Regions from separate parts of the Homo sapiens genome. Here region 1 is linked to region 2. Evidence: fine-mapped expression QTL. Tissue or cell type: stomach. Region 2 holds a variant in brackets; the other region holds the start of a gene. All regions are shown on one strand. Distances are between the middles of the regions.

What was found. PIP is the estimated chance that this variant, and not a neighbour inherited with it, causes the effect.
Region 1: it holds the start of SLC49A3, and the variant in region 2 is fine-mapped to the expression of SLC49A3 in stomach (GTEx, PIP above 0.99).

Annotation. Positions count from the first base shown.
Region 1 is chr4:685,409-693,527 of GRCh38, forward strand. It overlaps SLC49A3 (solute carrier family 49 member 3), which reads right to left and starts at 3,743. Exons shown (of 10, transcript NM_032219.4): 1 at 3,585-3,743; 2 at 1,124-1,282; 3 at 681-894; 4 at 427-503. The coding sequence starts at 3,719. LOC124900643 (a long non-coding RNA gene) reads left to right here and starts at 1,277. Exons shown (of 2, transcript XR_007057985.1): 1 at 1,277-1,830; 2 at 2,064-2,611. RefSeq lists enhancers at 1,161-2,109, 3,058-4,006, 4,007-4,954, 4,730-4,779, 7,139-7,726 and 1 more and silencers at 3,530-3,699, 3,730-3,789.
Region 2 is chr4:659,555-664,554 of GRCh38, forward strand. It overlaps PDE6B (phosphodiesterase 6B), which reads left to right. Exons shown (of 22, transcript NM_000283.4): 12 at 913-1,059; 13 at 2,580-2,687; 14 at 2,955-3,064; 15 at 3,546-3,633; 16 at 4,216-4,316; 17 at 4,560-4,667. Among named protein-coding and RNA genes, the nearest start is that of PDE6B-AS1, 6.9 kb to the left of the region's middle. RefSeq lists an enhancer at 3,819-4,411 and a silencer at 4,006-4,475. The variant C/G (reference allele first, on the strand shown) is at 2,538.

The DNA of each region.
Region 1 (8,119 bases), 27 kb after region 2:
TCACACACTGGCCGGGCGCGGTGGCTCACGCCTGTCATCCTAGCACTTTGGGAAGCCGAGGCAGACGGATCATGAGGTCAGGAGTTCGAGACCAGCCTGGCCAACATGGTGAAACCCCAACTCTACCAAAAATACAAAAAAAAAAAAATTAGCCAAGCATGGTGGCGCACGCCTGTAGTCCCAGCTACTCGGGAAGATGAGGCAGGGGAATTGCTTAAACCCAGTAGGCGGAGGTTGCAGTGAGCCGAGATCGCGCCACTGCAATTCAGCCTGAGCGACAGGCTGAGACTCCTTCTCGGGTGGCGGGGCGGGGGACGGGAATCACACACGGGCACAGGAACACGGACACACTTGGGATCAGGAACACACAGACGTGCATGCGCACACACCACACAGACCAGGCACGGGCGTCTCATGACCCCTCACCATTAACGGAATGTCCTCACCCTTCTTGACCAGCACAGGGGACAGCACATTGGCCACAAGGACGCCCAGAGGGTTCGCTGGGTGGGCGGATGCACAAAGTGTCAGCTCGGCTGTGGCCTGGCTTCATCGCCAGCCCACAGGCAGAACCTTCCGGGCCCCAGCTCCTCCACCCTGGCCAGAGAGCCTGGGGAGCCGAGCGTCTGTGTGGACCCTGAGGTGAGCCCAGGCAGGCGGCCTCCCTCCCCGGAACTCACACATGGTGGCGAGCATGTTGGCCGTGGCTCGCTGGTGCTCTGGGAACCACAAGGCAGCCAGCTTGGCTGGAGAGAAGATGACCAGGCTCTGGGCAAGGGCACAGAGGCTCTGGCCACCCATGAGGAAGGCAAATGGGTTTTGGGTCCCAACAACCATGCAGGGCACCATGCGTAGCACACTCCCGGCAAAGTTCAGCCACGCACCCAGGATGGTCTGCGAGGAGGGGGTCGGGGACCGGGTCAGGAACGCTGCCACCAGCCCAAGTGCCTGCCCCGTCCCCCGAGCACCTGGACCTCCCACTGCCGCCACCTCGACGGCTCTGCCGGGGTCCCCAGCTGTTGGGACTGGTGGGCCCCGGTCTGGGGAGGCCTTGACTCTCCTACCCAAATGCGGGGGCCCCTGCACTGTCCCGGAGCGGGCCATGGTGTGGGGTCTGACTCACCGCCGCACGGAGCCCGACGGAGTCCAGGATCCAGATGGCCGCCACGCCAAATGGGGTGGATACCACGAGGTAGACCAGTGACAGCCAGTTGATCTGCTCCATGGACAGGACCAAGTCCTCAGCAATGACGTCAGCCACAGGTGCAAAGCTGAGCCACAGCTGCAGGGGTCAGGCGGGAGTCAGCGCAGGGCCACAGACCCCGGACCTACCTGCTGTGGCCCCAGCCAGCCCGAGGGGGTCAGAGTGCCAGCAGCCCCGTGAGGCCGAGGGGACACAGCGAGCTGGACACGGGGCCTTCCTGCCCAAGGAGAGCGCCACCCTGCCTCCCCCGAGGGCGGGCACCCAGCGCAGGGTCAGAGAGCATGCCCTGACCGGGGACCAGCCTGGGGGGCAGACACTGAGGCCAAGGACCTGGCCAGAGCCCACAGGACCACGAGCCCTGCCCAGACCAGACCTGGCGCTCCAAGGCAGGGAAAGGTGGGCGTGACGGGGTCTCAGCTAGAACCTCTGGGACTGCAGGCCAGCCCCACCCAAGGCCAGCCTGACCTTCCCTCCTGCAGGGCCCAGGTGTTTGGGCAGAATGTTGCCAGAGCGGGCACCATTCCCCAGCCACAGGCATTATCAAGTACTAGAGCTCTTCACCCCACGGACGTCCAGCACACAGCACAAGTGCACGCTGCGGCCGAGGGGAAGGCCTCCTAGGAGAGGTGAGACTGGCTCATCCCTGAGGGAGGCCAAAGTGGAGCGGGTCACCGGGGCTCACTCCGGGAGGCAGGAGGCCGTGTCACTCAAGGTCAACTTCCATGAGTCGACTGAGCTCCAGGCCACACCCTCGGACACAGCAGCCAGACCCAGGCTCCGCCCGGACAAGGTCTGACTCAGCCCACGGGACAGGACAGGGAGCTTGGGCAACAGCCGCCCTGTCTTCCTTTTTCTGCAGGACGGGGCCAGGCACAGAACGAGCTCCCCAGGCCCAGCTGGTGCCTGCCTGGCCGAGCCCGGGAGAGAAAGCCCACCCTGCGGAGCCGAGCCCGCCGCTCCAGCCTCAGCCCTGTCCTGGTTCCTCGGGGGCCTGAGTGGGGCCCACAGCTGACTCACTGAGAAGAGATGCGTCTGAAGCGTGCGGGGCAACGTGGGAGGACGATCTGTCTGACTCCCTTCCTCATCTCCCAGCCTCGACCCTGCCTGCGCTCGCCCCCTTGGGTCCTTTGAGTCTCATCCAGAGCACTGGGCTGCCTTCCGGGGTGGGTGTTGACCCAAGCTCTGCTCCGCCTGGCCCTCATGCTGCTGGTTGGAACCCGGGATCCCTGGTCACTGGCTGCAGATGAGTAACCTCCAGCCTCAAGGGCACTTGGCTGGAGTGAACATGGTGCTTACGGCTCACTGTGGTGACCCAGGCAGAGACCATGACGACTCTTGGTGTCAGGGTGAGATTTCTGTGTGCTCCATGATGACTCGTGGATATTAATAAAACAGTGAAGAACTGCAGCAGGAGGCCCTTGACTGTCCAAGGAACGCCCCACACCTACGACACCCACTGACTCTTGGACCATGAAACCAGCCCTGCACCCTCAGACACTCCACCCAAAGCCAGTTATGGCTTCCCCAGTGCCTGGACATGGTGGGCCAGGACGCCAAGCCACAGCAGTGAGTTACGGCTCGTGCCAGCATTGTGGGCAGCAGGCAGCCCCTGGGCCCATCCAGCAGATCCCGGGCCTGTCTCGGCCAGAGGCTGGCCCTCCATACCCAGCCAGCAAAGGAGGAGGGGAGAGGCCCCGGGGTCCACCTGGAAGAGCCCTGACCCAGGCCTGAGAGTGACTCCTGCCCCTGCCCCCGAGCTTCCTGACCATCCCCGTGACCTGGCGCCTCCCTGAGCTGTGGGTCCTGCTGCCAACTCTAGCTGTTCATTGCACGTTGGCCAGATACTGCCTGACCAGTTCCTGAGGCTCCGGGGGATGGCTGATGAGGGCACACAGGGCGGGAAAGGCTGCAGCGTGCAACACCTGAAGGGGGTGGGGGCAGGACGGAACCCAGCCCAGCCCAGGAGCCGCCCCTCACTCAGAGTCAGGTGGAGGGGAGGGCGGCTCCAAGCGCGCCTCTGCTGTGTGCCTGCTGTCCTGGGGCTGGGAGGCGTGGAAGGAGAGAGGGCCAACGCAGGGCCACCTGTATGTGACTGGCTGGGGAAGAGGGACCCAGGCTGGAGCCACTGAAGGCTGGGAAGGGCTGGGACTCCGTGACTGGCAGATCCCCCGGGGCACCCAGCCCTGCTCTGTGCCCTGGGCCCAGCCACCTCCAGGACAGACAGTGCCCCCAGTGCCCGCAATCCCTAGCCACCTCCAGAAGGCACCCCCCGCCCCCAGCCAGCACCTGGCACCTCGGGCTGTGGCCACAGGAAAACAAAACCCGGCTGGTCCGAGGGACTGAGGGTCCCGGAGCCACCTGTCCCCGCCCCTGCCCCTACCGTGGCGTTGGAGCAGTTGAGCAGGCTGATCGCGAGCAGGAACACCCAGCGGCGCGCGTAGGTGCGGTGGCCCCGCTGCGCGCACAGGGCCCGGGGCTCGGCCAACCCCGTCTCGGCCTCCGTCGGCCCCGCCATCGTCGGCGGCCTCCACGGGTCTCCGCCGGTCCCGCCGGCCGCCCGGGCTTAAGGACCTTCCCGCGTGGGCCGGGACCGCCTGCGGGCGGAGGTGGGGCCGGGCCGGGCCGGGCCACGGGGGGCCAGTTCCGCCCCAAGGACTACGGAGGAGGGTCCCGCCCCGTCCCAGTTAAAGGAGACCCAAAAAAGCGGGGGAAGGGCGGGCAAAGGTGAAGTTGGACCCTCCTCCTTCGGCCTCAGGCTGGAAGTCCCTGCCACAAAAACCGAATGTCCCTTCCGGGAAGGGCCCCGGTCACAGCCTGTGTGCTTCTCAGCAGGAAAGGCGGCCTGGAAGTCACTCTGCCCAGCAGAAGCTCTGCACTTCCTGAAGGGGGCTGTGGACCCCAAGTTCCTGAGGTTCAAGCCAGCCACAGGGAGGGGCCAGAGGCCAGCCTGGAAGAAGAGGCTGGGCTGGCTTTGCGCAGAGCCTCAAATCAGACCAGTCCCTCTACAGCCCCTGCGGGAAGCAGGCATGGGGTAGGAGGGCGAGGGGCTGCAGGCCAAGGCTGGAGGGAAGGCCAGAAAGGCCTGTGGGCCCCACCCTGGGGTAGGCAGTCCGCCACACACGCACCGGATTGTTACCTGCATTTTACAATGGAGGACACGGCTCTCAGAGGAGTAGGCACAGGTTTCTGTTTGTTTAGGATGGAGAGGCCTGTGTGTTGGAAGGCAGAGGAGGGAGTTTCGGCTTAGTCTTTTCTGCAAGAACCTGCTGATCCCACAACTGTGCCTGGCCCACCCTGGGGGAACCCAAGAGGCTCCAGGCCCTGTTGCTGAGGCCAGTATAGGGGTGGGGTGGAGGCTGGCCTGGTCAGACGTGCAAACAGGATTTCCCCCAAACAGGGAGGCTCTCTTGACCCTTGAAACCATCCCCGTTTCCTGAACAGTATTATTCGTGGTTTTTGTCTTAAACATTCATCTCCTTTGCCAGGGCCTGTCCATTTTCCACACCTGAGTCTGAACAGGCTAATGATGAGGCCCCAGCTTTCACTGTGCAGTCTTCTGCAGGGATTGTGTGTGTGTCTCAGATAGAGCTCTCCACTTTGGGATTTTTTTTTTTTTGTAGAGTCTCATCCAGTAACAAAGAGAAAATGGAGCTCACCCGGGGTGTCCTGAGATGGGTGGGCCCCAAGGGGGTTCCATTCTCTGAGACGTGTGATGGAGCCCTGTGGTCCTCACTCTCTTTATCTCCTCTGCCTTCCCCACCGTCTAGCCTCCCCCCTCATCTTTGTTCCCCATTCCCCCACCAGTTCCTTCTGTTCTCCTTCTCCTCACCTCTTGCTCGCCCTGCCCTGAGGACCCAGCCCCCTCACAACCTTCCTCCATAGTCCAGTGCCAATGTTGGCCTAGGGCCTTCAACATCCCCTAACCCCACCTGGCAGAGGGGGAGTTGCAGTGCAGGCTTCCCTGTTGAGGGACCTCACTATTGTGGAGCACTGCCTCTGACAGGTGGTGTCTGAGCCTGTCACCATGAAATGGGGCAGCCACAGTAGCTACCTCCATCGTTCAGTCTCTGTTGAGCGTGCATTGTCGAGGGGTGTCACCATGAAACGGGGCAGCCACTGTAGCTACCTCCATTGTTCAGTCTCTGTTGAGCGTGCATTGTTGAGGGGCTCCTCCTCCCTACATGTCGGAACTCTTGGGTTGAGCAGGTGAGCTCAGCAACATTGCAGAATGCAAGATCAGCACACAACAATCGCTTGCATTGATGTATACCAACAAGAAACATGAAAACCAAAGTTAAAGACATTCATAATTACTCCAAGGAAAATTAAATACTTTGGTATAAACTTAGCAAACCATCTACAGAACTTGCATGCTAAAAATTACAAACCATGGGCCGGGTGCGGTGGCTCACGCCTGTAATCCCAGCACTTTGGGAGGCCAAGGCAGGTGGATCACAAGGTCAGGAGTTCAAGACCAGCCTGGCCAACATGGTGAAACCCAGTCTCTAGTAAAAATACAAAAATTAGCCAGGTGTGGTGACATGCACCTGTAGTCCCAGCTATTTGGGAGGCTGAGGTAAGAGAATCTCGAACCCGGGAAGCAGAGGTTGCAGTGAGCTGAGATCATGCCACTGCACTCCAGCCTGGGCAACAGAGTGAGACTCTGTCTCAAAAAAAAAAAAAAAAAATTACAAACCATGGCTGGGCGAGGTAGCTCACATCTATAATCCCAGCACTTTGGGAGGCCGAGGTGGGTGGATTACCTGAGGTCGGGAGTTCAAGACCAGCCTGGCCAATATGGTGAAACCGTCTTCACTAAAAATGCAACAGATTAGCTGGGCATGGTGGTGCATGCCTGTAATCCCAGCTACTCAGGAGGCTATATAAGGTGGGAATTGATTAAACCCGGGAGGCAGAGGTTGCAGTGAGCTAAGATCGTGCCACTGCACTCCAACCTGGGCAACAGAGGGAGACTCTGTCACAAAAAAAAAACAAAAATAAAACAAGGAAAAAAAAACAAGCTGTGCCCCAACCACCTTGAGCACGTGCCATCAGGACTGCCTGAGGCTATGTCACAGGTGTGTCCTTAACCTTGGCAAAATAAACTTTCTAAATGGGCTGGGCACGGTGGCTCACGCCTGTAATCCCAGCACTTTGGGAGGCCAAGGCAGGCAGATCACTTGAGGTCAGGAGTTTGAGACCAGCCTGGCCAAAATGATGAAACCCTGTCTCTACTAAAAATACAAAAATTAGCCGGGCGTGGCGGCGGGCACCTGTAGTCCCAGCTACTCGGGAGGCTGAGGCAGGAGAATGGTGTGAACCCAGGAGGCAGAGCTTGCAGTGAGCCGAGATTGCGTCACTGCACTCCAGCCTGGGCAACAGAGCGAGACTCCGTCTCAAAAAAAAAAAAAATTTAATTTTTTAAAAAATCGCATAGTATAAGTCCACTTATTTGGAAACAATGACTTTTTCCACTCTTGCATCTAATGAAACAGTTTTGTTTACATTTCTCCACAAGCACCTTCGGCACACTCACCTAAGCTGCCCGAGTTTTGGATCCGGGTACAGCACCATCCTGGGATCCTCACCCCAAGCCCAGAATTGCCTGTGTACGTTTACATGGTGACCTCCAGACAAAGGCACCCAGCGTCTTGCTTTCCAAAAGGATCTCTGGTCAGGTTTGGTAGCTCACGCCTGTCATCCCAGCACTTTGAGAGGCCAAGGCGGGCAAATTACCTGAGGTCAGGAGTTCGAGACCATCCTGGCCAACATGGTGAAACCCCGTCTCTACTAAAAATACAGAAAAAATTAGCTGGGCATGGTCTTGGGTGCCTGTAGTCCCAGCTACTCGGAAGGCTGAGGCAGGAGAATCGCTTGAACCAGGGAGGTGGAGGTTGCAGTGACCTGAGATGGCACCACTGCACTCCAGCCTGGGCGACAGAGCGAGACGCCGTCTCAAAAGAAAAAAAAAGAGAAAAGAAAAGGATCTTCAAAAGCTTATTTAAATAATCCTTAACATACACAGTTATGGCTAAATTTGCATTTCAATGCTGTTATCTCTCTTCTTTTAACCCAACATAGACTTCTGTCAGCATCCCAGACTAGCATTCGTTAATTGCGGGCTAATGTGTCTTTCCTAAACAGTATCTTGTTCAAAATCAAGCCACTGGAAACAGTTGCTCTGCCAAGGCTGAAGGAGGAGGCAGGCCGCCTTTTCCAGCCTGTCAGGGAGGAAACCTCACCTGCTGCGCTGAGACGGCCTGCCTGTCCTGCTGCTCCTCTGAGTGGTTTTTATCTGCTCCTCCCAGAGAACCTCAGCAATGTGAGGGCAGGAGCCGTCTGCCCACCCCGAAGCCCTGGGGGAAGGACTGCCCGGCACAGCTCCAGGGTAAAAACAGAAACCGTGGGACGCATGGCCTCTCTGCTGTGGGTCCCTCCACCGCCCCGGGCCTGCCAGACAGGTTCTTCCGCGGGGTGCCCACTTCCTGTGTGGAGCCTCCTTGACCCGTCTGGTTCCATGTGCCCCATCTCCACGCGCCTGCATGCCATCACTCCCACCCATCTCTGCGCCTCCCTCCAGGGCCCGGCTGCTGATAGCCCATGCGGGACAGCGCCCGTGGCCGGGACTGAGTCGGCACACCCAGACCCGGGTGCACAGGCTGCCCCAGAGTGACAACGTGAATGCATCCTCAAGCATGTGGAAGGCCCATCCTTTTACAGAGATGTGCACGGGAACATGAGCCTGTCTATTTACTTAGACAAGGGAGGGCCCTGGCCACGTCCAGGCCACAGAGGGAACATGAGCCTGTCTATTTACTTAGATGAGGGAGGGCTCTGGCCATGTCCAGGCCACATGCCACTCCAGTCGGACCTGCCAGAGAGGAGCCCTCCGTGTCCTCCTCCTCCCCTCCCCGT
Region 2 (5,000 bases):
ACATGTGTGCACATGTGGGTGTGTGTGTGCACATGTGGGTATGTGTGTGCGTGTGTGCATTGTATGAATGTGCACATGTGTACACATGTGTGTGCACATGTGTGCCCACGAGTATGTGTGTGCATGTGTGTGCACATGGGCGTTTGTGTGTGTGTGCCCGTGTGTGCACCCATGTGTGTGTGCTCACATGTGCACAGGGGGTGTGTATTGTGTGTGCATGTGTGTGCACATGGATATATATAGACACATGCTTGTGTGTGTCTCCTAGAGACGATTGCTGGATCAATGTGGGGATTATGTGGTGTCCCCATCACCCTGTGTCTGCCTATGCAATTTAGCCAGAATCTCCCGGGGCCACGAGCCTTGTGAGTAGGCCTTGGACTGAGCATGGGAATGTGCCTGGTGGGTCTGAAAGTCCACTGTTGTGTGTGTTACCTCATGGCTGTGTGTGTGAGCCTACATGCGTGAGTCTGCACGTGTGTGCCTGCATGTCTGTGGGTGTGCCTGGGTGCTCATGTGTGTGCCTGTGTGTCCACACCGGTGCCTTTGTATTCATGGGAGTGGCCGTGTATCCAGGTGTGCCTGTGTCACGTGTGTCTGTATCCGTGTGTGTGTGTGTTTCTTTTCATGTGCACACCTTTGTGTTTTCTTGTCTCAACAACATCACCCTGTCCACCCAACTGGGCAAGTTCTTCACTGTTGGGCCACAGGGTACAAGAGGGGAGAGTGAGGCTGAGCCAGGGGGGCGTGTGAGCAGCCTGGGATACAGGCTGGAGCGCCAGGAATGACACATCTCCTCAGAGATGCCTGAGGTGTCTGAGGCTTGGCAGGGGATCTGGAGAGAAGAAAGGATGAGAAGCAAGTGGGGGCTGTGGCAGGCCAACCTCCCTCAGCCCACAATCCCTCCCACAGAAGGAGGAGCTGCCAGGGCCCACCACATTTGACATCTACGAATTCCACTTCTCTGACCTGGAGTGCACCGAACTGGACCTGGTCAAATGTGGCATCCAGATGTACTACGAGCTGGGCGTGGTCCGAAAGTTCCAGATCCCCCAGGAGGTGGGAGACACCGCAGGGCGCATAGTCAGGTCCCTGAGGCCGCCCAGGACATGGGGGTGGGGATGTGATCAGGGCCTCAGGTGCCCCAGAAGGTGAGGGGGATGGGATTGGGGGTTCCAGATCCCACAGGAAGTTTAGAGGGCCGACATGTTCATCACAGAACAGGTAAAATGCACACGGGAAGTAAGCATAAAACAAATAATTGGATGGCTGGGTGGATGGCTGGATTGATGGATGGCTGGATGGGTGAAAAGCAGGGAGGAAGGAGGGAGGTTAGGAAGGAAGGAAGGCCAACAGGCAAGCAGAAAGAAACAAAGGAAGAATAAATGAATGGATGGGTGGATGCCAATGGTAGTTGGATAGTTGGATAAATGGATGGGTGGGTGGGCCAATGGTAGTTGGATGGTTGGATAAATGGATGGATGGGTGAGTGGGCCAATGGTAGTTAGATGGTTGGATAAGTGAATGGATAGGTGGATGGATGGAGAAGTGGGTGGATGAGTGATAGATGAGTAGGTGGGTCAATTAATGAATTAATAGATGGGTCAATGAATGGGTGAATGGATGGGTGGACAGCAGATGGATGGTGAATGGATAGATTTAAAGTTTTATTATTAGGAGTTCCAAGCAATTTGATCATTAGGCACATCATCTGGCAATAACAGGGGATTTGGTGTGGGGTGCTGAGGAGATAGAAGCATCCCATCACCTAAACAGAAAGCACAAAGTGGCCCCCCTGGTTTGGCCACAGCAGCACTCCTCGGAGACCCCCTGGGGAGGCGGGATGGCTTTCCCAGCCCTCGTCCACAGCTCTGTGCCCTCCCTGGGTTCTCCTGCCCTGCCCTGCTTCCAACATCTCAAGGGGCTTCCCACAGCCCTAGGAAGAGAATCCTCTTTTCTCATGCCCCTCTGAGAACAGGTGCAGCAGGCCAGCATTTTCAAAAGAAGTTTTACTAAATACTAAGGGAAAACACTCAAGAAAAAATGTATAGAAAATATTTGCAGAATAAAAAATATTTCCAAATAATTTTCTGACCCTAAAAATCACAATGGCCGCAGGAAGAGCCTCCTGGCGATGTCCGCAGGGCAAGAGAGACCAGCATTCTCTTGCCCTGCGGACATCGGTTCTCCCACCCCAGCCTGCAGCCCACACATTCTGCTCATTCAAATGTCCATGCCTAAAACCAACATCTTAAAATATGCTGCATCCCCAGGGGTCCTCCTCCCAGCTTGAGGCCAGGCAGTCGGATGGAGGCTGGGCGGCCCCTGAAGGCTGGGGCTGTTCTCAGCTCCTGCCCTACCTGGCTCCACCCCATAGGTGCCAATGTGGCAGCCCCTACCCAGGAAGGCCAGCAGAGGCCAGTGGGAAACGCAGGGATGGGGAAGATCGGGAAGTCCAGGAGACGGTGTGGGGATGATGGCACGGAGCAGGGCTTCCACTGTGAAGTCAGCCACAGGTGCCGCTCTGGCGGGACTTA[C/G]ACGCTTGCCGCCGGAGCCCTGTGTCCTCTCGGCTCCCCCAGGTCCTGGTGCGGTTCCTGTTCTCCATCAGCAAAGGGTACCGGAGAATCACCTACCACAACTGGCGCCACGGCTTCAACGTGGCCCAGACGATGTTCACGCTGCTCATGGTACGTGGCTGCCAGAATCACCAGGGTTGTGCAGGCCCTCCTGGTACCAAGGGCAGCACTCAAGCACCCCGAGGGATGAGATGGGGGTCCTCCCAGGGCAGAAGGATGGAGGAGGGCAACGCCCTCTGACACCGTGCACCGCGCACCCCAGCCCTGCGGTGGTCGGAGGTCCAACCTCCAACCCGACGCCTAGGTCATCCCAACCCCTCACCACTCCCCACCCTGCTGGAGCCAGGACCGGTGAGCAAGGTGGCCCTGTCTCTACAGACCGGCAAACTGAAGAGCTACTACACGGACCTGGAGGCCTTCGCCATGGTGACAGCCGGCCTGTGCCATGACATCGACCACCGCGGCACCAACAACCTGTACCAGATGAAGTAGGCACCTCAGGGCGGGCATGTGAATTAGCCCTAAATCAACTCCACGCCCTTGGCGTGAATTAGGCTTCGCATAGCAGGCTATGTAGAAAGTGGAGTCCACGGCCAGGCCCCGTACTCCAGCACTGTGGGAGGCCAAGGCGAGGGGATTGCTTGAGCCCAGGAGTTCGAGACCAGCCTGGGCAACATGGCAAGAGCTCTCCTCTACAAAAACTTAAAAAAAAAAAAAAAAAAAAAAGCTGTGTATGGTGGCGCACACCTGTGGTCCCAGCTACTTAGGAGGCTGAGGTGGGAGGATCACTTGAGCCCAGGAGGTCAAGGCTGTATTGAGCCATGATTGCACCACTGCACTCCAGAGTGGGTGACAGAGGCAGACCCTGTCTCAAAAAAAAGAAAGTGGGGCCCATCTGGGGGGGCTGCAGAGCGCAGGGTGGGCCAAGGGCAGGTCCCACGGGCCTCACCTCCACCACCTGTGTAACAGGTCCCAGAACCCCTTGGCTAAGCTCCACGGCTCCTCGATTTTGGAGCGGCACCACCTGGAGTTTGGGAAGTTCCTGCTCTCGGAGGAGGTTGGTATACTCACCCTCGGTTTCTGCTGTGGGCGCTGGGGACGCAGCGTCCGCAGGACGGCAGGGCCGTATCCTGCGGAGCAGGGTTCTGATGCAGCGGGTGAGCACTGGGTGTGTGAGCACTGGGGGAGGGCGGCAGAGAAGGCGGAGGGCCGAGGCTGAGGGCAGGTGCATCGGAGGCCCTGGGAAAACGCTTGTGGGGAAGACAACTGGAAAGGGCCCCTCATGGGGTGGGGTGGAAGCCGAAGGGGAAGCGGCCCGGGACCCACCAGCGGGGGAATGAAGGGCAGCCGAGCCCTGAGCGGCCCCCAAGGACCTGGACACTCAGTGGACCCCTCCCTGCGCTCCCCGGTGGTGACCTCTGAGGCCATCTGCGTCCCAAGCCGACGATGGAGCCGCTGGTGGAGAGCTGGGCACCCTGAGGAGGGCCCTGAGCAGCAGGCGGATTAGGGGTCCCGCCCACCGAGGGCCCGAGGGCGGGGGCGTGAGAGGCACAGGCAGCCGAGGCGGAAGGGGCGGGGTCCCCGGGCACCCTGAGAGGTGGCCGCAGGGCGCCTGACGCGCTGGGCATAACCTCCGCAGACCCTGAACATCTACCAGAACCTGAACCGGCGGCAGCACGAGCACGTGATCCACCTGATGGACATCGCCATCATCGCCACGGACCTGGCCCTGTACTTCAAGTGCGCGCCTTCCGGGAGGGGGCGCCTCGCGGGGCGGGCGGGTAGCCTGGGACCCCCGGCAGACACGGGGGCGCAGCGGCGGCACAGCCCGGGGGACGCAGCCCCGGATTCCGTCCCTGCCCGCCGGCCCCGCGCACCCCGGATGGGGCCTCGCTCGGGCTCCGCGCCTCCCTGCAGACGGGCGCTTGGGGCGGGGTCTCCACACTTGCTCCCACCTGCACCTCCCTTGTTCCCTGGGTTCAGGAAGAGAGCGATGTTTCAGAAGATCGTGGATGAGTCCAAGAACTACCAGGACAAGAAGAGCTGGGTGGAGTACCTGTCCCTGGAGACGACCCGGAAGGAGATCGTCATGTGAGCGCGGGCGGAGGGGGCACGAGGGGTCCTTCCCTCGCAGGGACCGGGCCCACTCACCAGCTGGTTAACCCTGCAGCCCTCCCCAGACGCTCTGGAGCAGGAAGAGCCCGTCGCGGCAGCTTGTCGAGGGCTGTGAAACAAATGCGCCGTCCTTATTTCCCCCCAGCTCTCAGGGAGATGGTGCAGAGCTGGGGAGCACACAGGCCCTGCATTGGTCTGTAGCCCTTGGCAGTAACTTACTTCATTTTGACCTTCCACTTTTTCACCTGTAAAATGGTGATTCACAACCAGCCCCTCCCCAGGCTGGTCCCAGGGACCCAGTGAGAAAAT